Regions from separate parts of the Homo sapiens genome. Here region 2 is reported to be linked to region 1. The links are microRNA targets in miRTarBase. Many come from high-throughput screens and were not tested one by one. Region 1 holds a microRNA gene; the other region holds the end of a gene's coding sequence.

Evidence for each region. The annotated mature microRNA hsa-miR-548q reads GCUGGUGCAAAAGUAAUGGCGG and lies in region 1 at 2,614-2,635, opposite strand. An mRNA with a match to its seed (bases 2 to 7 or 8) in the 3' UTR can be bound and repressed. Matches are read on the target gene's strand: a 7mer-m8 pairs with bases 2 to 8, a 7mer-A1 pairs with bases 2 to 7 and ends in A, and an 8mer does both.
Region 2: miRTarBase lists STX4 as a target of hsa-miR-548q. Seed matches in the 3' UTR shown: 7mer-m8 at 3,235-3,241.

Annotation. Positions count from the first base shown.
Region 1 is chr10:12,722,712-12,727,098 of GRCh38, forward strand. It overlaps MIR548Q (microRNA 548q), which reads right to left and starts at 2,642; the gene lies at 2,543-2,642. The region is part of intron 3 of CAMK1D (calcium/calmodulin dependent protein kinase ID); the gene reads left to right.
Region 2 is chr16:31,038,775-31,043,161 of GRCh38, reverse strand. STX4 (syntaxin 4) reads right to left here. Exons shown (of 11, transcript NM_004604.5): 9 at 3,511-3,621; 10 at 3,344-3,439; 11 at 2,998-3,250. The coding sequence ends at 3,359. Among named protein-coding and RNA genes, the nearest start is that of STX4, 7.4 kb to the right of the region's middle.

The DNA.
Region 1 (4,387 bases):
TTAAACTTGAAGCTATAAGATTAAAATCCCTGTCCTAACAGAGTTTCTAGCATTAAGGCGGAAACAGAAATGTAAGGCATGGCCCTGATCACTAAAAAGGATGTGATCTATTGGGAACTACTTGGAACAAGAGTGAGAAGTAGAAGAGAGTAAAGAGTCAGGAAATGTGATTTAATAAGTATGTGACAGAATATTGAAAGTGTTCATTAGTATATCTCTAACGGAGGTATAATCGGTGCTCTCGGGGCAGGTGGAAAATGGTGTGGGCTGGAATTTGAGTGTAGATGGGAAAAGGCAGAAAGGAAGGTGTTCCGGAGTCCACATGGGAGGAAGAACTATGTGAACACCACATGGGGAAAAGAAGAAATGGACGTGAAGAGGCTAAAGTCCCAGGGTGTCAGGCAGTGGGCTTGTGTATTGCAGGCCCACACGTCTTAAAGCAATCTCATTGAGTCACACTTAATTAATTGAGAATTTATCATTATTTGGAAGGAGGCAGGCTGCAGTTTGGGAGAATTGAGATTTATTAGGTGTTTGAACGGTCTGAACGGGAGAATTGTAGAATTTTTGCTTTAAAAGGAAAAGATGTCTGACCTCTTCCATGTAACAGATGAGGCATCTGCAGCTCACAAGGTTAGAAAGCTTCCCTGACCTCACACAGATGGTAAATGACAGAACCCAAACTAATTAAATCCTGCATTTCCCTGAATCGTTTTTGGGGCATCTCATCTCAGAAAAGGAGGGGAAGGTTATCTACTTAAGGAAGGTTATCTACTGAAAATACCGCAGTAGTATTGATTACATTAAGGCATACAGGAATTGCAATATGGTACAGATGAACATGCATCTTTTGCTAATGTGTAAGCTCATCACTAATCAGCCTACTTATGAATGAAAGCAAGACCTCCAAGAGGCAGAATAGTTACTATGTAAATTGAAAGGCATTTTTTTCTATTAAAATACATCATAAATAATTATGTTTATATCCTTGCAGTAGTTTAAAACTCTATTAGCAGGTTTTGTTGTTGTTGTTGTTTTGACATTCTTTTTTTATATTTTTTATTATACTTTAAGTTCTAGGGTACATGTGCACAATGTGCAGGTTTGTTACATATGTATACATGTGCCATGTTGGTGTGCTGCACCCATTAACTCGTCATTTACATTAGGTTTATCTCCTAATGCTATCCCTCCCCACTCCCCCTACCCCACAACAGGCCCCGGTGTGTGATGTTCCCCTTCCTGTGTCCAGATGTTCTCATTGTTCAATTCCCACCTATGAGTGAGAACATGCGGTGGTGTTTTGACATTCTGTCGCACAGGCTGGAGTGCAGTGGCGTGATCCCAGCTCACTGCAACCTCTACCTCCCAGGTTCAAGCAATTCTCGTGCCTCGGCCTCCCGAGGAGTTGGGATTACAGACGCCGGCCACCATGCCGGGCCAAATTTTTATATTTGTAATAGAGATGAGGTTTCACCATGTTGGCCAGGTTGATCTCAAACTTTGACCTCAAGTGATCCACCCACCACAGCCTCCCAAAGTGCTGGGCCTCCATTAGCAGGTTTTTAAATGTGTTTCTATCTTTTTGTCTTGGGCTGCCTTCTGTTTTAACAAAGTGAGGAAAATGGCATTCGTGTGCATGGAGAAGGGACTCTGGGGGCCAGGGTTTGTGTTCTGGGGCTTTCCGAGTCCTTGAGTGGGTTCTGGAGTCACTTAGGATAGGAGTCACTTCACTTACAGGAGTTTTGCTTGTGCAGAGGTCTCATCTGCTTTGGATTTACTACACCCATCACTCTGCATCTTCTGGTATAAAAAATGGAATGTGATTGCTGGACAAAAGCAAAACCTTGTAAATCCACTTTAAAGAAAGCAAGTGAATACATCCCAGTTGTCCTAGACACTGAGAAGTCCTCACATTTAAATGGCTGTTTGGGAAAATATTAATACTTTGAGGAGCTTGACACCGGGCAACCGCTGTCTGAGCTTCATAGGAAGGAGATGCTTCTGTGTGAATGAAATAAAGCCCAGCTCAGGGCAGCCTGAGTTCTGTGGGCCTTCACTTGGGTCTAGCCAGGTGACAGAATGTGATCCGTCTGAGTTGGAGGCTGCAGTGAGCTACGGTCACACTGCTGCACTCCAGCCTGGGTGACAGAGCCAGACCCCATCTCTTAAAAAACCAAAAAAAAAAAAGTGATCTCTCCGTGTCTCAGCGTCTGCCACCTGAGATGTTTGATGTAACTGTGAAAAGAAAAAAGGCACGTTTCTTTCAACCACATCTCTTTCAACAATCTAAACTTCACAAATGATAACCAGGCACATCCGTCTAGTGTTTTGCAGCAGAAGCAAGGGTCCCACTGTGTTTCTCCTTAGCCGTGTGGACTGGGGGCAGCTGGAGAACCCTCAGATCCGCAGTCCTCTGTGGACTCAGCTTGCAGATCCCTGCCTGGTACCTGCCCACATTGCCACAGGAGCCAGTAAGAAAATAACAGCAGGGGCTCTTTGTCAGCCATGGAAATCGGCACCCTTGGAATGCATGAATCTTAGGTTGGTGAAAAAGTAATCATGCTTTTTGCCATTACTTTTAATGGTAAAAATGAAAAGTAATGGCAAAAACCGCCATTACTTTTGCACCAGCCTAATATATTCTTACGTGTGAAAGTATTTGTAGCTTCTTTCCATTAAACTCAAAAGTAGGGGGTTTTCTTCCTCAACACTAAAGGACATCAAAGTAGTAATTTTCAAGAGAGAGTAAAGTGCATTGTCAGCTCAAATATATGAATCCAAACATGATTTCTAAAAAGATGATTTAGCCAGAAGAGTTAGTAATCTGACAAAGTTTAACAGCTTTCTTAAAAAGTCATAAGTACCCACTGGCAATGTCAATTACTACTTTATTTTCTCAACAGTCTTCTCTCATTTCGGCATCTTGCAGGAAAGAGCAACATCATGAGGCGTGTCTACACCTGCTTCTGTGGGAGAAGGAATGCACGGGATTCCAAAACTGGTCATGTTCGTCTAGCCAGCTACACACTACTGAATAATATGGTTTTCTTTGCTGTTTTTGAGCTGGAGTCTCACTCTGTTGCCCAGGCTGGAGTGCAGTGGCATGATCTCGGCTCACAGCAACCTCCACCTCCCAGGCTCAAGCAATTCTCTTGCCTCAGCCTCCCAAGTAGCTGGCATTACAGGCGCCCACCATCACACCCAGCTAATTTTTGTATTTTTAGTATAGACGGGGCTTCCTCATGTTGGCCAGGCTGGTTTCAAACTCCTGATCTCAGGTGATCTGCCCACCTCGGCCTCCCAAAGTATTGGCATTACAGGCATGAGCCACGTCACCCGGCCTGGTTTTCTAGTATATAGACTATTTCTCTTTTTACTTAACCTATAAAATAGAATTGATGACTTGGTAATGTTACAAAGGGAATACTGGGCCGGGTGCAGTGGCTCATGCCTGTAATCCCATTACTTTGGGAGGCCTAGGCGGGTGGATCACAAGGTCAGGAGATCAAGACTGTCTTAACCAACATGGTGAAACCCTGTTTCTACTAAAATATAAAAAATTAGCTGGGCATAGTGGCACGCACCTGTAGTCCCAGCTACTTGGGAGGCTGAGGCAAGAGAATCACTTGAACCTGGGAGGCAGAGGTTGCAGTGAGCCCAGATTGCACCACTGGACTCCAGTCCAGACAGAGCAAGACTCTGTCTCAAAAAATAAAATAAATAAGTAAAAAAATTAAAAAAAGAAGGGAATACTGTAGTTAAGCGGAAAGCTGACTTACACATTGTCAACTTTAATTAGACCTAGTGCCGCAGGAGAATTAAAAGAGACATGTCTCAGAAAATAATTCTACAGAAGCCACGACCAGGACATGCCATCGTTGTTATTAGTAATTATTTTTATACCTGCTGTATATAGTGCAAGGCTGTGCTCAACGCTTTATAGAATTCATTAAATTCTCACACTAGTTCCATGATGATTGAAGAAACTGAGACTTGGAGACATGGTGACTTGCCTCAGTGACGGAGCTTGGATTTGCTCAAACGTCTTCCAGGTTCTTGAGCCCACAACCTTACCTACTATGACTGTGGTTTTCAAACATGGGACAGAGTTTTGAGTTCTCACTTTTGCTTCAACGGGATAGCTCATTTAAAAAATGCTTTGCACGTGTTCGTGCATCCAGGTGAGAATTCATTTGAACCCAGCCCCCTCAGGCCCCTGTGCTCCCAGCTGCCCAGGGCCATGGTGAGGAGCGGCTGTATTCAGTCAGGCCTACGGCACGCCATGCCCGTGGCCCCACACCCAGGCTCCCCTTCCGCGTTATCCTCAGCCTGCGCAGCCCAGGGCCTGTGTAGCATGCATGGCACATGTGCTGACGGAGGCTTG
Region 2 (4,387 bases), not on the chromosome of region 1:
CATCAGGCCACCTTTTCCAGGAGGTTCTGGATGGCTTTCTGGGTGAAACCGGGGAGCTGCTTTTCAGGGGCGGCGCTGTCCAGCATGGCTAAGAAGAGGCACACACTGCACGTGGCCCCCCGCTGCACATGGCCCCCGCTGCAGGTGGACACCCGCTGCATAGACAGTGGATGCCGAGAGACTCTATCAGATCCCAGTAAGCACCACAGATCTTGCAATTTTACTCTGAAGGCAGAGAAGTGAGAGAGTGGATGAAGGCAGCCAACGGGACAGGACTTTGCTGGAGATGCAAGCAGAGAATCAGGGAAGTCCAGAGGCCCCAGGTCCAAATCAGCTTTGTACTGGGGCAGCATCTGCCCGGCCCGCAGCTCCCATCGGGTGGACACACCTAGATCGCATCTGCACACTCCAGAGAAGGTGGAGCTCTTTCCTGTAAAGCCCACGACACACTGGATCTGCCGGGCCCTCCTCAGCCACACAGCCTTCCAGTGTCTTTGGGGGGTTCGATCCAGCCCCTTGCGGTATACAATCCAACCACTTCGGGGTATGTCTGCGCCTCGCCCTAAGGCCCCACCCACACCCGCTTCCTAGACCTAAGCGCCATTTGATGGTGGGGCGGGGATCACTCTTCCAGGACCCTCCAGACTAATGTCCATGCTCTTCAGAGACAACACTTAAGTCCCGCTGGCCAATCGTAACCAAACCACGGCCTTAGCCACGCCCCATGCACAGCTCGCCCAGTTGCGGACGATCTCGGACGGTAAGACCTGCACTCCAGGGCCACCGGGAGGCGCTGCGGGGCCACCGGGAGGCGCAGTCGGGGGTCGGCGAGGCCTGGCCCTCGGGCCCAATTCCGCCCTCCTGCCCTTCCCCTAGCCCAGTCCAGAGCCCGGTCCAATGTGCATCAGCGAAGCCACATCCAGCGCTTACGCGACGCGGTCTCCCACACATGGCAACGCGGGACTGAGCCCGCCAGACTGGGCAGCTGGGAGCGGCGGCAGCGGCAGCAACAGCAGGGGCCTGTAAGATTGAAAGTGGGATGGACTGGGCGGCTGCGACGCAGTCCCCAGACCTTGGAGGTCAGAGCTAGGCGCCGCCCTACTGCAAGTAGGCAGGTGCCAGGAGCCGGCTTACCCTTTAAAACTAGGTGTCGGGGGCCGGGCGCGGTGGCTCATGCCTGTAATCCCAGCACTTTGGGAAGCTGAGGCGGGCGGATCACGAGGTCAGGAGATCGAGACCATCCTGGCTAACACGATGAAACCCCGTCTCTACTAAAAATACAAAAAATTAGCCGGGCGCGGTGGCGGGTGCCTGTAGTCCCAGCTACTCAGGAGCCTGAGGCAGGAGAATGGCGTGAACCCGGGAGGCGAAGTTTGCAGTGAGCGGAGATCGCACCACTGCACTCCAGTCTGGGCGATAGAGCAAGACTCCGTCTCAAAAAAAAAAAAAAAATTAGCCGGGCATGGTGGCGGGCGCCTGTAGTCCCAGCTACTCTGGAGGCTGAGGCAGGAGAATGGCGTGAACCCGGGAGGCGGAGCTTGCAGTGAGCCGAGATTGCGCCACTGCACCCCAGGCTGGGCGACAGAGCGAGACTCTGTCTCAAAACAAACAAACAAACAAACAAAAACTCTAGGTGTCGGGGAACAGGAGCCACGTCCACTCCAGAAATTAGGCATCAGGACTAGGAGCCCTTAGAAATTTAGGCGGTGGCTCACGCCTGTAATCCCAACACTTTGGGAGGCCGAGGAGGGCAGATCACGATGTCAGTAGATCGAGACCATCCTAACACGGTGAAACCCCGTCTCTACTAAAAATACAAAAAATTAGCCGGGTGTGGTGGCGGGTGCCTGCAGTCCCAGCTACTCGGGAGGCTGAGGCAGGAGAATGGCGTGAACCTGGGAGACGGAGCTTGCAGTGAGCTGAGATAGTGCCACTGCACTCCAGCCTGGGCAAAAGAACAAGACTCTGTCTCAAAAAAAAAGAAAAAAAGAAATTTAGTCAGGGCTTGGATTTCAGGTACCTTATGGAAGAAATCAGAGGTCAGGCTTTTCTGCTGCCACCACCTGCTTCAGCCAGGTAACCCTCAGCAACCAGGTGCACTGATCCAGGATCACTGGCTCTCTATGCTGCTGCTGCTGCTGCTGCTGCTACTGATGATGATTGCTATTATTTTTGAGACAGGGTCTCGCTCTGTCACCCAGGATGGAGTGCAGTGGGATGACCATGGCTCACTGCAGCCTTAATCTCCTGGGCTCAAGCGATCCTCCCACCTCAGCCTCTGGAGTAGCTGGGACGACAGACACTTGCCATCACGCCTGGCTAATTTGTAAAATTATTATTCTCTAAAGAGAAGAGGTTGCCCCATCCTGCCTAGGCTGGTCTCAAGCTCCTGGGCTCAAGAGATCCTCCTGCCTGGGCCTCCCAAAGTGCTGGGATTACTGGTGCGAGCCACCACACCCTGCCTAAACGCTTATGTAAAAGATGATGCTTTTGTTGGTCACAGGGCCCGGCCTCCTGTGCTTTCTGACTGGCAACCTCTTCCCCAGCTTAACATCCCACTCCAATGTCATCCCTGCTGAAACCAGACCATCCCTATCCACTGCATCCAAAGTGACAGCCTCAATTAGGCATTTTTTCATGGTGCCTCTTCCTCTGGGCCACAAGAAGGCCCACTGATGCCACCCAAACCCCCATCTCACCTGCGTCCCAGCCTGGCCTGGTCAGCCTCATCATTTCCAAGACAGATACTCACAGTGGTCCTTTCCCGGGGACAGTACTGAGCCAGGAGCTAGATGCCGGTGTTACCCCTCCCTGCCCACCCATTCCTATGGGGGTGCAGAAAGGCAGAACCAGCCTGCTGTGGGCACAGCACCCCTGGCAGTTTGACCTGAGCAGCCAGGGCCAGACCTGGCCCTGGGGACGTCCAGGAGGTAAGGAGGTTGGATGCCCGGAAGCCTTGGGCCAGCCCTTCCAGGAACACACGTGCACAGGGCTTTCTATGCTCTTTTTTTGTTTTTTAATTTTTTACAAAACCGTGTGTCCCGGCCAATCAGGACAGTGCAGGCCTCCCCCAGGCATTGAGGCCTGAAGGAGGAGGCCATCATGAATGAGCAGCTGCCAACCCCAGAAGAACTGTCTGCCCTTCTGCATAGGGGCCAGTGTGAGGAAGGGGTCCGACTGGAGGCTCTGCCCTGCCCCCCAGGCTGCTGGGAGAGAAGGCCAGGCCCTGGGTTCCTGGTGCTCCTAGTGCCTGTAAGGAAAGGAGGGAGAACAGGGTCTGAGGGAGGAGGGAGGGCTGGGGCCAGGGCTGGGGCAGGCCAGGGGGCAGCCCACAACATCTCACCAACAATGTGCGACATTATCCAACCACTGTGACGCCAATGATGACTGCTAGGAGGACGACGGTGATGGACACACAGATGGCAATCAAGACTTTCTTCTGTGGGAGAGGAGGGGGTCAGGGAAGTCACACAGGGTGCCTGGGGCAGTGGCCGGGCCTGGGAGGCTCACCTTCCTCGCCTTCTTCTGGTTCTCCAGGGCCGTCTTGACGTGCTCCTGCCCACGTTCCACGTAGTCCGCTGAGCTCAGGATGTTCTTCTCAATCCGATTGATCATCTCCCCCTGCTCAGAGGATGGGGTGGTTCAGGGAGGTAAGGATGCCTTTGCCCACCCCACCCCAGATGACTGAAGAACATTCCTGGCAGGAAAAAAAAATTGCACTAACAAAGACAAGGGCAAGACTTGATCTGACAAAAGTTCAGACTCCTTGGGGATGGCTTCCAGGCCCCTTCTATCATGTAGTCCCTTGTCCCCTGCTCACTTATCCCATACAACCTCTATCTGCAGTGGTAGCTTGGAGCTAAGGGCCTCAAATGGCTCATACCTTTCACAGATGGTGAACTGTGCCTTCACAAATCTGTCTGAATTTACCCATTCTTCCAGGCCTATCTACAGCTGCTGCAAAGCCCTCCCTATCCCTGCCTCCTCCTGGCACCACCAGCCTCAGGTCTCAGTACTCCTACTGAATGAGATCTCTTTCCTGTAAGTCTCAGCTGCAAAAGGGCATTGGCTGTAGCATGACTGAGGCCAGCTCCTCCAGGACAGGGCTGGAAGCTCAACTCAACTCACAACCAGGGCCAGGGGAACGCCGCCCCCACCCCAGCCTTGTACAGATGTTAGGAGGCAGCCCCTCTAGGGCAACTCTGACTGGACCTCTGAGAGGTATAAGGGTGGATGCTGTTAGTGGAGGGGGAGTGAGGGCTGGGGCCAGACCTGGGCAGGCTCAAGTTTTGGAGAGGGGGCAGGGTGCTATGCAGAAGGGAGTGGGCATCTGTGTAGCAGCAGAGGCAGGTGCCATTCTCGGGGTACAGCTAAGGATAGGAATAAG